3 separate regions of the Homo sapiens genome follow, and all the other regions are linked to region 2. Evidence: fine-mapped expression QTL. A gene starts in region 2. Each other region holds a variant in brackets. All regions are shown on one strand. Distances are from middle to middle.

What was found. PIP is the estimated chance that this variant, and not a neighbour inherited with it, causes the effect.
Region 1: its variant is fine-mapped to the expression of PVT1 in blood mononuclear cells (TOPMed, PIP above 0.99). The same link has a PIP of 0.9 or more in Th2 cells, adrenal gland, esophagus mucosa, fibroblasts, follicular helper T cells and lung.
Region 3: its variant is fine-mapped to the expression of PVT1 in whole blood (TOPMed, PIP above 0.99).

The regions. Positions count from the first base shown.
Region 1 is chr8:127,994,073-127,999,295 of GRCh38, forward strand. The region is part of intron 4 of PVT1 (Pvt1 oncogene); the gene reads left to right. It also overlaps the pseudogene RNVU1-32. Among named protein-coding and RNA genes, the nearest start is that of MIR1206, 12 kb to the right of the region's middle. RefSeq lists an enhancer at 2,509-2,598. The variant C/T (reference allele first, on the strand shown) is at 2,692.
Region 2 is chr8:127,792,469-127,797,691 of GRCh38, forward strand. PVT1 (Pvt1 oncogene) reads left to right here and starts at 2,056. Exons shown (of 9, transcript NR_190187.1): 1 at 2,056-2,266. It overlaps MIR1204 (microRNA 1204), which reads left to right and starts at 3,494; the gene lies at 3,494-3,560. RefSeq lists enhancers at 466-1,036, 2,179-2,748, 2,749-3,320, 3,042-3,091, 3,192-3,531 and silencers at 1,762-1,811, 1,832-1,891, 1,902-2,061.
Region 3 is chr8:127,959,815-127,965,037 of GRCh38, forward strand. All of the region lies in intron 3 of PVT1 (Pvt1 oncogene), which reads left to right. It overlaps MIR1205 (microRNA 1205), which reads left to right and starts at 819; the gene lies at 819-881. RefSeq lists enhancers at 195-1,170, 4,485-5,096 and a cis regulatory region at 577-688. The variant C/T (reference allele first, on the strand shown) is at 1,953.

The DNA.
Region 1 (5,223 bases), 200 kb after region 2:
TGTGCCTGCCTGTTCTCCCAGCACATTCTCTGTACTCTCTTGTGCTGCTCCTCACCCCCTCTCCAACTGTCTCTCCTTCTCCACCATTGTCCTCTGCCCACTCCTAGTCCCTTCTTTCAGCTCTGTTTCTTCTGAAAATGAGGATCTTTCTCTCTACAGTGCCTCTTGTGGGACGGGTTCTGCTGATGGGGGCTGTGTTTGGGATCTCGCCTGGAAACACGATCTCTCCAACTTTCCCTGGGAGCAGAGCCTTGGGTCTCACTGAACCCACCTCCCCAGCACCTTGTGTGGTGACTGGCAGGAGGTAGCCATTCCCTCCTGTCCTCTCTGCCCTTGTCCACTTTCCTGTTATGAGTCAGTTGCTGAGATAGGCTATGAGGAGTTAACAGAGTGGATAAAAAAGAGCTTTGTCCTTCTTTAAAGCCTTCAAAATATACAGATGTATTAGTCAGGGCTTTCCAGAGAAACAGGACCAATAGAACATGAAGATAGATGCGTATCCATGTCTATATCAATATCTACCTTGATATTTATATCTATATCTAGGAGATTTATTTATTATAAGGTATTGGCTCATGCAATTATGGACCCAGAGGGGTCCTGTGATTTGCCACCTGCAGGCTGGAGACCTAGGAAACAGCTGTCGTGTCACAAAGGGCAGAGGGCTGGAGAACCTGTAGTGTAGATTCCAGTCCAGATTCGAAGGCCTGAGGACCAGGAATGCCAAGGGCAGGAGAAGATCGATGTCCCAGAACAAGCAATCAGGCAGAGATGAAATTCAACCTTCCTGTGCCTTTCTGTTCTATTCAGGCCTTCAGTGGGTTGAATGAGGCCCAACCCACATTGAAGAGGACCATCTGCTTTACTCAGTCTCCTGGTTGAAGTGATAATCTCATCTGGACATACTCAGAAATGCTGTTTAACCAGCTCTCTGGAAATCCTGTGGCCCAGTCAAGTTGACACACAAAATTAACCATCACACTGCAGAGACACAGTCTATCCCAATACCTGTATTTACTGGGTAACGTGCATCTCAGCTCACCAGGCTGGTTTGATTGACTTGGCCCAAAGCTGCCCTTTGAGTGTTGAGCCCCAGCTGACCCCTTTGATCCTTCACAGCCCCATCATTAAAACAAGGACCCTGAATCAAGTGACTGTAAGAGCCACTCTTGTCCTGTTCTGTCTGTATCCTGGCTTTGAGTGTTTATCTAAGCTAAGCCCAATTGACTGTTGTCATTCTTTGTCTCTTCCTTGCTCAGACATCAGTTAGGTATTTATTGAACACTCCTGTGTTCACAGCATCCGGCTCCTGGGATTAGAGACAGCTCTTGACTCCTGGTTTTGCTCTTTGAAACCTATTGGACTGCTTTTCTTTTAAGATACACCCCCCACATTATAGGAATCTATCCATTTCTTTGTTCATTTCTTTAATTGTGCATTATATCAGTCCGTCAGTCAGTTTTCCTCCTGAAATATGCTAAGTATTGAGAATTATAATAGATTCTATTAAGCACCGCTAATAAAGTACTATCCTTATAGTAGTAGTAGTGTTTGCGGTGATGGTCGTGTTAGTACTAGTAGTAATCAAGATGGCCATGAAGAGACTGCTTTTAATCTACCAGTAATCATGGTAAAAATAGTAATAGCTCAAATGTATTATTCATGGTGTTTCAAGCACTTTACATTATATGATGTCATTTACTCTTCACAACCTGCCAGGAAATGGAAATGATTACGTAATATACTCCAGTTTGCAAATGAAGGAATCTTCCTGCGGAACGTATGTGAAGCGCATATTGGTGCTCTGGGCTTTTGCATAATTTCAAATGTCCTTTTTTTTTTTAAACTTAAGGCTAATGTTTAGAAGCTTTTGCTAATGAGAGGACCATTTGCTAAATCGGTATAAGTGCTACACATTTGGGTATCTCCATCCCAACATACCTCTTATTGCCATTCCCCAAAGCAGACACCTTCTCCTCCCTCCCTCAAGGACCTCTGAGCTTGCACTCCAATTCCTCTCCCACACTCACCTTTCTCCTTTCTGTTCCTCTTGGGATCCAGGTTTATTTGAGGAGATAGGAAAAGCTCCTGATCCAGCAGGTTTTATTCTTAAATTTGTAACAAAGTAAATCACAGAACCTCCACCCAGCATCCAGGCCTCTGGTTCTCTCCCTCCTTCCCAGGTATAGGCCGGCTTTCAGAAACCCTGCACCACATAGACCCTGGGCCTGAATTGCTGTGAGTAATAATGACTCTGCTGGTAATTTGTGTCCTTCTGCTTGGAACTGTTTCCTTTTTAGTTTGGTCACCCTCCCAGAGCTGGTTTCAATGGGGGCATACCCATTATGGGATGCAGGGCATCCTGCATCCTGAGGAATTTTTTTTCCTCCAAAAATGAAACCTTGAAATGAGGACATTGTCCTGTCCACGGACTGCACAACAACACTGAGCCTCAAGGACTCATACTGGCATTTTTCTTCTTTTGCAGAGTGTGGGCACCCTGGCTTCAAGCTCACGAGAAACCAGGTCGGGATTTAAACAATGTTGGGTTAAAGCAAAGTTTCATAAAGACAGAATCAAGAAAAAAAGAAAGAGAAACCAATCTAAGTGCCATCCTCCCTGAGTTGCATCTTACCTGAGTCTTCAGCCGCCGCCCCCTGCTGCTGTGGGAGGAAACGGGAAAGTGACTGG[C/T]CATGGGGACAGGGGTCGGGGGTGTGAGGGTTAGTGGTAGCAGGGAGGTAGCACTTCTGTGAAGCCGGAAAGGAGACCTGAACCTGGCTCTCTGCTTTGCTGCTTGCCAGCCCTCTGGCTGGGAAGAAGGCTCTTGGCTCTTGTGAGCCTCGGTTTCCTCTGCAGAGTGGCCTGTTCTGAGGACAGGCTGACATTGCTGTCCATCAGTCTTCCAGGACCCTGAGGATTTCAGCTCTACCCATGGGCACTGAACTGGAACATTCACTGGTCATTTGCTTTCGTTTTTTTTTTTTGTTTGTTTGTTTTTTGATACAGAGTTTCACTCTTGTTGCCTAGGGTGGAGTACAATGGCGTGATCTCAGCTCACCACAAGCTCTGCCTCCCGGGGTCAAGCGATTCTCCCCAGTAGCTGAGATTACAGGCATGCGCCACCACGTCCGGCTAATTTTGTATTTTTAGTAGTGATGGGGTTTCTCCGTGTTGGTCAGGCTGGTCTCGAACTCCTGACCTCAGGTGATCCGTCTGCCTCAGCCTCCCAAAGTGCTGGGATTACAGGAGTGAGCCACCGAGCCTGGCCGCTTCCGGTCTTTGGATTTGATTTTCCTCAAGTGTAATTGAAAGCAGGGGCCTGGATGGCCGCCATAGTCCCTCCCAGCTTCGACATTACACATTCCTGCCAATCCATTTTTCAGGCTGATAACATTGTTCAGAGTTTAATGGGAGCAGGGTAAGATAGTCACCGTGTGGAGCAAAAATTGAAGGAAATATTCCAGATGTCATGATTTTTTACCTGTAGCCCCTCTGCTGCCACACCCTTGTGCACATCCTCCAGACACTTTTAAAGAATAAACTCTATTTTCAGAAGAGTTTTAGATTTACAGGAGAATTGTGAAAACAGTTCAAAAAGTTCTCATATACCCTGCTCCCAGTTTTCCCTGTTACTAACGCTTTGCATTAGTGTGGCACATTTGCCACAATTAATGGACCAATATTGATACATTATTATTTACTGAAGTTGAAACATTACTTTAGTTTTTACCTGGTCCAGGATCCCATCTGGGATCCCACATCACATTTAGTGATCATGTCTTCTTAGATTGCCCTGGGCTGTGCCGCTTTCTCAGACTCTCCTGGTTTGTGATGACATTGACAGTCTTGAGTTTTGATGACCAGTTTTGACTGGTCAGGTATTTCATAGAACGTACCTCTGTGAGGGTTGTCTGATTCTTCTTCTTATTAGATTGGGATTATGGAGGAAGGCCACAGAGGTAAAGTTCCGCTTTTATGAAATCAAGGGTAGGCACCATCAGCATGACCTATCACTGATGTTGACTTTGATTACCTGGCTGCTGTAGTGGTTGTCAGGTTTGTCCACTTTAAAGATACTTTTGTGTTTTTGTTCTTTCTTAACTCCCTTTTTATATTAAACTCTTCAGAAGGAAGTCACTGTGCATAGCCATCCCCTAAGAAGAGGGCATTCCTGCTCTTCCTTCTCCATGGCTAGAGGATCTACATGAACTATTTAGATTTTTTCTACCTGGGAGATTTAACTCCTCTCTCCTATTTATTTATTTATATATCAGCATGGACTTGCAGGTATTTATTTGATAATTTTTAATTTATTTGAGTTATAATCCAATAATATGGTTTTATTTTGTTGCTCATGGTTTTTCTTCCTTGGCTATTGGGAACTCTTCAGTTACTTCCTGTGCCCATTTGACATACTTTCTTATTATGGGTCTTTCTTTCTTCCTTTTCTTTCCTTCTTTCTTTCTCTCTCTCTCTCTCTCTCTCTTCCTTCCTTCCCTTCCTCCCTCCCTCTTTTCTTTTCTTTTTTCTTTTCTTTCCTTCCTTCCTCCCTCCCTCACTCCCTCCTTCCTTCCTTTTTCTTCCTTTTTTCCTTCCTTCCTTCCCTCCCTTCCTCTTTTCTTTCTTCTTTCTTTCTTTCTTTCCTTCCTTTCTCCTTCCTTCCTTCCTTTTCTTCCTTTCTTTTCCTACCTTCCTTTTCCTTCCTTCCTTTCTTCCTTCCTTTCCTCCTTCCTCTTCTCCTCCTCCCCTTCCTTCCTTCCTTCCTTCCTTCCTTCCCTCCCTCCCTCTCTCTCTCTCTCTCTCTTTTTTTGGTGCATCCATACTTTCTGGCACTATAAGATGCTTAGGGCTTATCTTGTATATTTCCAGCCCCAGTTATAGAATCAGCCATTTCTTCAAGGATCCCCTGTCATTTTACTGGAGAAAGGACTTAGAATCCAAGATCTGGGTGCTAGATGTGCTTGAGGTGTTGTTTCCTCCAGATCTTCTCAACTGACAGAGCAGTGAAATATATGTGTGTAGGGAGGATGGGGAGAACAATTTTTTTAACACATATGAATACTTACCTGGCAGGGGAGATACCATGATCACAAAGGTGGTTTCCCCAGGGTGAGGCTTATCCATTGCACTCCCGATGTGCTGACCCCTGTGATTCCCCCAAATGTGGGAGACTTGACTGCATAATTTGTGGTAATGGGGGACTGCATTTACACTTTTCCCTGT
Region 2 (5,223 bases):
CCCAGAGAGGGCAAACAGCATCAAGGTCAAAGTTGAGTGAGTCCTGGGTGAAAGTGTCTTTTCAGCCAGGGGAGATTTTCCATGCAGAAGGGACTGGGCATCAACTGTCAGGACATGGACAGAGACGTCTGCCATTAGAAGCTGGTCCTCTCATAGCCCACCAGCATCCCCCAGGAGGACACTGGCTTCCTCAAGGTCACAGCCTTTGGTTTCTGGAAAAAATGATTAAGCAGTGAAAGGATTAAGGTCTCACAGCTCCTATCGCATGATGTATAGATGCAGAGGTTTCTCATCATCTTCTTTTTATATTTTAAAAGATGGATGACAACTAGATGCCAACTGCAGCTCAGGCACCTGCCCAGTCCCTCTCAGAGCCGGGCACAAAACAGACACCTGTCTAGCCCCTCACAGAGAGCCAGGCACAAAACAGACACCTGTCCAGCCCCTCACAGAGAGCCAGGCACAAAGCGGAGACTTGTCCAGCTCCTGGCAAGGAGCCAGGCACAAAAGAGATGCCCATGAGTGTAAATGAATCTGTGAAACAGGCAGAACAGGAGCATCAACTGAGTAATTGTTTTTTCTTTTTCAAATAAGAACATTTGCGTTGAGAAGCCGCCACGGGAAGAGATGTGATGAAACACTACACAGAAAGAGGGAGGAGCCTCCGGGTAGGTTGGAGTGAGTAGGATGTAGGGTAGCCGGCAGGGGAGAAGAGGGGCAACCTTCTGTTCCGTAATATTGATACCACCCATTTGTGTGTCCAATTTTTGCTGGTTTGTGACGTCCTTCTAGGGTCCATGAGTAACCCCCACCCCATTGCCTAGCTGGGTGCCTGACTCCCCTTAAGTGCTCAGTAGACGTTGAACTGGACGGGCGCTGGCGTGGTGGCTCACGCCTGTAATCCCAGCAATTTGGGAGGCCGAAGCGAGTGGATCATCTCAGGTTCGGAGTTCGAGACCAGCCTGGCCAACATGGTGAAACCTTGTCTCTGCTAAAATTACAAAAATTAGCTGGGCGTGGTGGCGCGCGCCTGTGATCCCAGCTACTCCGGAGGCTGAGGCAGGAGAATCGCTTGAACCAGGCAGGCGGAGGTTGCAGTGAGCCATGATCGGGCCACTGCACTCCAGCCTGGGTGACAGAGTGAAACTTCATCTCTAAATAAATAAATAAATAAATAAATAAATAAATAAATAAAATAAACTTTGAACTGAACAGGGGCAGCTCTTACATCTGTCCAGTCTCGGGTTTATGCAGATAGAACAAGATAACCACATCCCACATGGGAGGCCAGTGTCCACTTGCTCCTTTGGAGGAACTACTGGGCATTTAAGGGACTCGTTGAACACACTCTGTAGGTCAACTCTGCCCGGAGTGGAGGGAGCTGCGCAGACCGCTGGCCCTCTGCACGGGTTTGCAACTCGGCTTCTGGAAACAGCGGGAGACGTCGAAGGAGGCGAGAAGGTGCGCGCGCCCTTCTCACCAGGCCGGCGGATGCTGGGTGGTACCCAAAGAGGCGCTCAGATCACTGGAGCTGGAGCTCAGTCGGCGGTCTTCTGCGGGAACTGCACCTATCCCGGAGCATCTCTGGCCCTCCTATTTCACTGAACTCGCCTTCCTCAGCAGGAAAGTGGGAAGACCGCTTGCTTCCAGGACGGTGTGGGGAAGGGTAAGAGGGCTCAGGGAAAGACCGTGGAAAGCTCGGCGCACAAGCGAGCTGGCATCACCGGGGATTCCCTCCGGCCCGGTGGGACTCCGGCGCGCTTGTAGCGAGGACCCCCAGCCCAGGGCAGAGCCTACCCTCCGCTCCCCCAGTCTGGGCCCTTGGCGGCCGCAGTCGCCCAAGCCCGCCCCGCCTCCGCGCGCGGCCCTCTCCGGCTCAGTGCCCTGCGCTGCCGGGAAGCAGGCTGAGGGGCGCACCGGGCGGCGGGCGGGGACCTGGGGAAGGCCGGGAGCGCCGGGACCGAGGACGCACGCGGCGGGCCGGGCCGCGCGCGCCTCCCCCCTCCCCCGAGGCCCGAGCGCGAGCCGCCGTGACGTCACGGGCAACCCGCCAGCCCCGCGCTCCTCCGGGCAGAGCGCGTGTGGCGGCCGAGCACATGGGCCCGCGGGCCGGGCGGGCTCGGGGCGGCCGGGACGAGGAGGGGCGACGACGAGCTGCGAGCAAAGATGTGCCCCGGGACCCCCGGCACCTTCCAGTGGATTTCCTTGCGGAAAGGATGTTGGCGGTCCCTGTGACCTGTGGAGACACGGCCAGATCTGCCCTCCAGTAAGTTCCAATTTTGTCCCCTGCGTTTCTGGAAACTCTCGAGACTTGGCCCTGAGTAGGGATGCGCTGTGAGTAGTCGGACGGAGGAAAGGGGCTTTCGGAATCCAATATGTGTGTGCTAGGCGTGCACTGTCCTCATCACCAGCCTCAAGACTGGTGGCGAGTTTGGGCGTTTGGGGAGGGTGAGGGGAGGGGGATGACACCGAATGGCCGGTGCATAGAGGCAATTCTGGATTTATGAACTTGATCAAAGGCATATTAACTAATTTCTAAAAATAGACCCCTCTGCAGTCAGAACAGATTTGGAGCCATGATGTGGTTTGGAGGCCCCTCTGGCGAAACTAGAGGTCTGTGAATGTGTGATCCTCCCTCCATCCTTTGACCATCACTCCCCGCTTCCTCTCACACCCCCTCAGGGCTGGGCGAAGGTGATTTCCAAAAACTCAGTAACTCCGTGTTTTGAGACTTTCTCAGTTTTTGCATCGCATGTGAGGGTTTGTTGGGTGCTCCTAAACCCTCATCATGGTCATTCTTCTTGGCTGGGCTGTTGATTTAATTAGGTTTGCCTTCTCTTGCTAACGTGCTCTTATTTATGCCAGTGTTTGTGGTTCTGGGTGTAGACTTTCAGGAAGCACAGCCATGAAGCTGCATGCGTCTGTGTGTGGATGCCTCATGCCTTTTCCTGGTGGTTTGCAGGCATGGAAGATTCTTCTGTTCATCTAAGCTCCTGACTTTAGGCCCTTCTAGAACATTAGAGAGGAGAAGAAATCACGTGCAAGGATTTAGGGACAAGAGGATGAGGTTTTGGTGTTTCCTTTCTGGTATTAGGTTTTCCAGAGAGAGGCTGTTAGCCTGTCTCTCGCCCACTCCACCACTGTGAATCCTGGCTACTGGGGCTAGTTCCTTGCTAGGAAAAAAAAACTCTAGAGAAATGTGTTTGTGTGTGGTGGGTGGGCGGGGGCCCTGAGGATGCAGGGACTGTGTCTGCTGTGTTGTCTGTTATAAGATGTTTCAGACCTATTTTGCATACTGGCAGCGACAAGTTGAGACTTGTTCAACTTGACACAGTCCTGTGGTCATAGCGAATCTTTCTAAAGCTCTGATCAGTCAAGAAGGGGGTTGTATCAATCCTCAGAACCCTGAGTGGAACTTTCTACAGGATTTATTAGGAGAAAAACCTTCCCGGAAGCTGCAGAAGGACAAATACAGAATCCGTGTCTGGGAGAAACCTCGTGGCCTGGTCTCCATTATTTGAGATGAGTTACATCTTGGAGGTGAGGACGTGCCTCGTGGTCTAAAGCTTCGGCACAAGGGCCCAACTGGAATTCCACTTACGGGTATGACTGTGGGGTATATGCTGTACCCATTGAATTCCCAGAGGGATTTGTTAAGTGGTTGTGTTGCTGTTTTGCCTGGTTAAGAGTGGCTTATTCTTGTTGCCTCATCTATCTTGAGTGCAGAATTTTTGCATAAACGGCTTCTCTTGAAAAATAGAAGTCCGTTTTTGTTTTGTTTTGTTTTTTTTCTGATTAACTTTCCTTTTCCTCTGTCTTAAACACCTTCCCCCGCCCCTCGCCACCTCCATGCTGTGTTTCTGTGGCTGGAGCTTTTCTGCACTGGAAAGGAGGAGTTCTCCCCTCTGTTCTGACATATCTGATCCCCACTAGTTTATATGATTGCTGGTCTGAAAACCTGGTGAATTCTCACTGCCCACATCAAATCAATTCCCTGTTCTTTAGTTGTTTTTTTTTTCCGCCTCCTGAGCGGTAGGCAGGCACTCTGGCTGGATTCTGGAGCCTGTGTTTGCCATGCCTGGGCCTTCTGCCTGCCCAAGATGGACACGTTTCTCTGGCAGCTTTGTCAAGAGATCTCCTGGACTATAAGACACCCTGTTCTTTCCTCCTGTTTGTGTGAGTGGCCCTGCATTTGGGCAGAGTATTGGCAGAATATCTGGGGGAAGTGGAAGACTTTGGATAGTTGCCGGTCCAGGTCGTCTGGAGAGGCAGTGGCAGGCCTGCTGATGGCTGCCCCTTTGCTATTTGTTTTATATCAGGTGGCCCTTCTGGATGTGTGGCCTTTTTATTTTGCATTTCCTTTCATAGTTGGCTGCAGACATAAGATTCTTCTTTTTCTCTTGTTTTGCTTTTTTTTTTTTTTTTTTGAGACAGAGTTTCACTCTTGTTGCCCAGGCTGGAGTAAAATGGCTGGATTTCAGCTCACTGCAACTTCCGCCTCCCAGGTTCAAGCGATTCTCCTGCCTCAGCCTCCCAAGTAGCTAGGATTACAGGCATGCATCACCACACCCAGCTAATTTTGTATTTTTAGTAGAGACGGAGTTTCTCCAGATTGGTCAGGCTGGTCTTGAACTCCCAGCCTCAGGTGATCCGCCCGCCTTGGCCTCCCAAAATGCTGGGAGGCCTCCCAAGTTGCTGGGATTACAGGCATGGACCACCATGCCTGGCTAATTTTGTATTTTTAGTAGAGACGGAGTTTCTCCAGATTGGTCAAGCTGGTCTCGAACATCTGACCTCAGGTGATCTGCCCTCCTCGGCCTCCCAAAGTACTGGGATTACAGGTGCCACAGTACCCGGCCTTGTTTTGCTTTTTATTGTTTCCTGATGCAGGTTTGTGATCTCTTTGAGGGATCAGGACCACACCCCCCACCCCAATTTATATTCCCAGTGTCCATGGTGGGACCCTGACTGAGGATGGGAACAGAGCAACAATCTGGAATCATTTGGACCATTGAGTCCTGTGGACAGTCACTTCAATATCATCCCTAGAGAGTCTCAGAAATTCAAGGCCTTTTGGAATGCTGCCAAAATGGGTCCTTTGGCAGGAGCCCCCTTTGTCTCTTCTGTTTTCTGACCTCAAATAATCTAAGGAACTAATAACGGTAATAAATAACAATTAATAATAAGAACAATAATAGTGCATGTATAACATGGACATTGTTT
Region 3 (5,223 bases), 170 kb after region 2:
TCAGGAGCCCCTGGGTGGCTTGCACTCCTAGCCCCAAGTGCAATATACAGGTGAGGCGCCTGCAGAATTTTCATTAGGCTGAGTTCATTTCTGGAAGCAGGGAATTGGCATCCACTTAACCATCCCTAATGCCTGCCTTTTCATGTATGTCTGCACTTACTTCTGGCCTTCCCCGGATGCAGTATGTGATTCCTGGAAGGGGTCTCCTGTACGTCGTAGTTTTGTCATCTTCAGGCAACCCAGGATGACATGATTTCTGGAAATTTCCCTGATTTCTTTCTGCTTCACTCTCCCTCTTTTGCTAGAAGGGATCGGCTTAGGCAGCCATTGTGGTGTTCATTCAACATGTCCAGTACAGCCTGTTACTGCAGTTTCCAAGTTGGAGGGTCCGTGAGTCTACTCCCTTTTTTGAACAGAGGGGTACATGGGGAAGCTGAGCCTCTGATGAATGGGTTGATTTGTCCCAGGTCACACAGCTTGAGGGTGGCAGAAGCCAGATCTCAGGTCACAGAGTGGCTCTCCTCCATTTGCCTCCCTGGTCTTGCCTCCTGGAGGCCTGTAGATAGGAGACACCCTTCCTGGAAAGACAACAGCTTGGGGACATTACAGATAAGGCTGGGCGGGTGTGCCTAGCTAGCCCAGAATAAAAGGATCACCGAGAGAAGTTAGGAATCGACCTTCCTTGAGGTGGGTTCTGCAGATAAAGATGCTTTTGAAGTTCAGTTGGTGGGAGATAGGATCTTTGTGGCCTTCTGGATGGATGCACCACGATAGGGAAATCAGCAAGCTGAAGATAGGGAAAGTGAACACTTATCACTGAAGGCCTCTGCAGGGTTTGCTTTGAGGTACTTCCTTCCTGTCAACCCTGTTCTGGAGTCTGTCTCCATTTTTCAGACACAAAAACTGAGGCATAGATAACTGTTTTCTGTTTTTTGTGGGGAGAGAGTATTATTGTTTCAATTTCCTGGACACTTCAAAACATAGGGTATTTCTCATTATGCAATAGTTTAATTGAGCACATACTGCAGGCCAGGCATGGTGCTGCATGCATTCTGGAAGTACAGGAATGAGTTGGAAGTGCTCTTTTTCCTTAGAGATTTTTTGTTCTCTTGTGTGTGTGTTTGGGGGTGGGGGGGGCGGGCGGGCACGAATAGGGGAGGAATTTAGATGAGAAATCAGATAATCACAGCCAAGGTGCCTGCCTGGGGACACAGGGTGCCATAGGCACACAGAAGGGCCCAGGGTGTGGACTTAGGGTGGTCAGGGGAAGGAAGGAGTTTGCCCAGAGAAGAGGCAGGAGGGAGACAGGAAAGGTAAGCAGAGGCCAGATCCTAGAAAGACCATTTTGACTTTGTGCTGAGGGCGATGGTCTCATGATGCAGATTTTAAGCAGAGGTGAGAGAGGGAGAGATTAGCATTTCAGAAAGCATGGCCTCTGCCATAGGAAGACAAGATCAGAGGGAGGTCCAAGCTGGTGGCCAGTGGTGACGGGGCCTGAGCTGGAGGAGACAGGGATGCACTGGAGACCCAAGAGAGAAGTCCCTGAACGCGGTGCACGAAGAGCCTCTGGGGTTACAGGAAGGAAGGGGTAAAATGTTCTTTTCTGTGTCCAGCTTAGGCCACTGAATAGATTCGGTGCTGTGTGTTGTACTAGGAAATGCGGAGGTGATGGGGATTGTTTGGGCTGGAGTCTGGAGGGGCTGTGCCCCACCCCAAGCTGGGTGAGCATCTAAGGTAAGTGAGGGCTGTGCCCAAGACTGCATGAGCAAATCCAGGTTCTCCTACCAGCAAGCTGCCTTGAAGACTCTGAGGCTGGAAATGTATAACCTTGTCCGTACCACTGAGCACCTGTTACCCATACACATTACTGTTCTCCAAACCACGGAACAACTTGAAGGATTGTTTTGCCAGACTAAAAAGTGAAGAAAGCACTGGTTTCCTTCCATGGTGTT[C/T]CTCTTTAAACCACACCTTCTCAACCTTGTTTAGGGAGTGGGGATGGCCTTCAGGAGCTCCAGAGGCCCCCCCTGCCCGAGTCTGACTCCTGGTTTCTGGCTTCAACAATGACTAACCTGTAACTTCACATTTTGGTCTATAAAGTGGGTAGAAATGTAGCACCTCTGCATTCTCCAGGTTTGTTGTGAGGACGAAGGAGATAATGAATGTAGAATTTTTTTTTTTGAGACGGAGTCTCGCTCTGTCGCCTAGGCTGGAGTGCAGTGGCGCGATCTCGCCTCACTGCAACCTCCGCCTCTGGGGTTCAAGCGATTCTCCTGCCTCAGCCTCCCAAGTAGCTGGGCCTGCAGGGGCACTCCCAGCTAATTTTTATATTTTCAGTACAGACGGGGTTTCACCATGTTGGCCAGGATGGTCTCAATCTCTTGATCTCGTGATCCACCTGCCTTGGCCTCCCAAAGTGCTGGGATTACAGGCGTGAGCCACCGCTCCCGGCCATGAATGTAGAATTCTGAGCCCAGGGCTGGCTCACTGGGAGTGGGCCACACATTTAGGGGGTTGTTGTTGTACACATGATCATCGGTGGCACTGCTTTGCAGCCTAATGGTTTTTGACACATGTGTTCCTTCTTAATCCTTAAGCCAGCACCTTGAGTTGGGTGTGATCAACTCATTGAATTTTTTAACTTCAGCTGTGACATTATAGATCATCTAGCTCTGCTGTGACCTTATTTTGTAGATGACAGGGCTAGGGGTTACCATCCCTCTTAAGGCCTAGGGCCTGGGTGTTCTCACACCCAGGTTGCGGTTTTTGTCCTTGTCTTCTGGAGGTTCGTCTGCATTTTATTTTTTTTTGTTGACGATTTGTTGACGAGGCTGGAGTGCGGGGGTGCTATCTCGGCTCACTGCAGCCTCTGCCTCCTGGGTTCAAGTGATTCTGCTGTCTCAGCCTCCCGAGTAGCTGGGATTACAGGGGCACACCACTGCACCTGGCTAATTTTTGTATTTTTAGTAGAGACGGGGTTTCACCGTGTTGGCCAGGCTGGTCTCAAACACCTGACCTCAGGTGATCGCCCACCTCGGCCTCCCAAAGTGCTGGGATTACAGGCATGAGCCTCCATGCCTGGCCTCATCTGCATTTTAGGGTCCCTGTTTTACAAAGGAGCAGTCCCTATTTTACTTGCAGATGGGCAGTAGTGTCAGATCCTCACTGGGGTGGTCAGGGAAGAGGAGGTGTTTGGAAGAGGGCCCCAATGGACCTCTGGCCTGCGGGATTGAGATCGGGCTGGCCAGCTCTCCTCTCTTTCCTCAACAGAGTCTGGGTCTCACCCTGCCCAGCAGCTTTCTCTTCTTCCTAGAAGTGCCCAAGACAGGATCTTTTCAGTTCTGAGATCTTCCACCCCTCGCACGGCAGCCTTCCTGCCCCTGCCCAGGCTGACTTCACACCATGCTCTGTTATCCCAGGTCCTAGGCTCGCATCGGCCACTTGCCACCATGTTGGTGACTGCCTGCCCTCTACCTTGGATGGTGCGGTCCACGGGGCAGGACTGGGGTTTGCCATTTGTGTGTCCCTGGTGCTTCTCTCAGTGTCTGACACCTGGTGAGATTTGCCACCTGTTTGGTGCATGGGTGAGTGTGGTTGTTTACACTAGCGTTGTTATTGGAAATCACTCAATTCTTGTTCTCACCCACTCCTGCCTCCTCTGAGAAAAAGTGTGGCAGAAAAGTTCCCTGAACTACTAACACAGGGGGATTTAGCACTCTTAGATATTTTTAACTTTTCCATAGAAAGGCAGCACCCCCCACCCCCCTCCACCCTTTTTTTGAAGCAGCAGCATTTACAAATATTGAAACCAACTTTGTACATCTCCACTCTGACTTCTGGGCCTATTTAATAAATATTCACTCAAACATGTACTATGTGTCAGGCATGATTTTTGGCACTTGGGAAACATCAGGGAATGATGTTTGGGGAGGAAGCTGATCTAGCTGGGGCCCAGGTGGGGTTGGAATGGAGGAATGGAGTCCTGCCCTAAATCCAGCATGGCCTTTGTCCTGCGTGCCTTGGGACCTGGTCCTGGTGGTTCCCTCCACTTCTCTGATTCTTGGTTTGAATATATATTGACTGAAGAGTTGGAATAGAAATATCTTCGTATTCTGTTTTCAGTTCTAGGATCGTTTATTCGTCCAGTAACGTTTGTCAGGGGTTGAATGTCGAGTGGAGAATGGCTGAATTTGCACTGTGAGGGAACTCACAGCTGGAGGGAGATCCCCACAGGGACTGCGAAGGCTTATTGCAGATGAAGGAGTGCCATGACGACGATGACCCCCAGGAGCGTCCTTCCAGGACAAGCAGATGGGTTCAGGGAAGGCTGGGCAAAGAGGGGCAAGTCAGCCATGCCTGGAGAGGAGCAGCATCTGCTGGGAGTCCTGTTTTGACAGTTGTCATTCCCAGATGTTCGGTGGTGTGTTCCCTGCAGCAGGCCTGCATGCACCTGGATGTCAGAGTGGGAGGCCATTAGCTCACTGGTTCAGAAATAGTTCCTGGTTATGCCTGTCTTGTGGTGGCCCATTCTCAGCTTGGCGGATACAGCAGCGACCAACCGAAGCCACCAGTGGGAGCAGAACTGGAGGATGGAGGTCCTCGGAAGGGTTCTAGCCACACTGGGCTTCAGACCCTCCAGAGTCAAAGCCTGGCTTCCTTCTCCTGCTGGAGGCAAAGGCCCTTATTGTTTTTTTGTGGCTGCAGTAACAAATTTCGACAGATTTGGTAGCTTAAAACAACAGAAATTTATTGTCTTACAGTTCTGGAGGCCAGAAGTCTGAAATCAAGGTGTCAGCGAGGTTGACACCCTCTGAGGTGCTAAGGGACACCCTTTCCTTGCCTCTTCCAGCTGCTTGTGGCACTGGATGTTGCTCGGCTTGTGGCAGAATCATTCCAATCTCTGCTCTTGTCTCCACGTACCTTCTCTATGTCCGTCTCTCCTCATGTTTTAGGGCCTCCAATGATCTCATCTCAAGATTATTATTTTTAAACAACTTTATTTAATTTTATTATTATTTTATTGATTTATTTTAAGAATGGGGTTTTACCATGTTCCCCTTGCAGCTCTCCTACTCTTGAGCTCAAGCCATTGTACTGCCTCAGCCTCCCACAGCATGGGATTACAGGCGTGAGCCCCCACTCCTATCCAAGATTCTTAACTTCATTACATCAGCAAAAGCCCTTTTCCCAAATAAGGTCATAGGCACCAGATTCTAAGGGCAATAT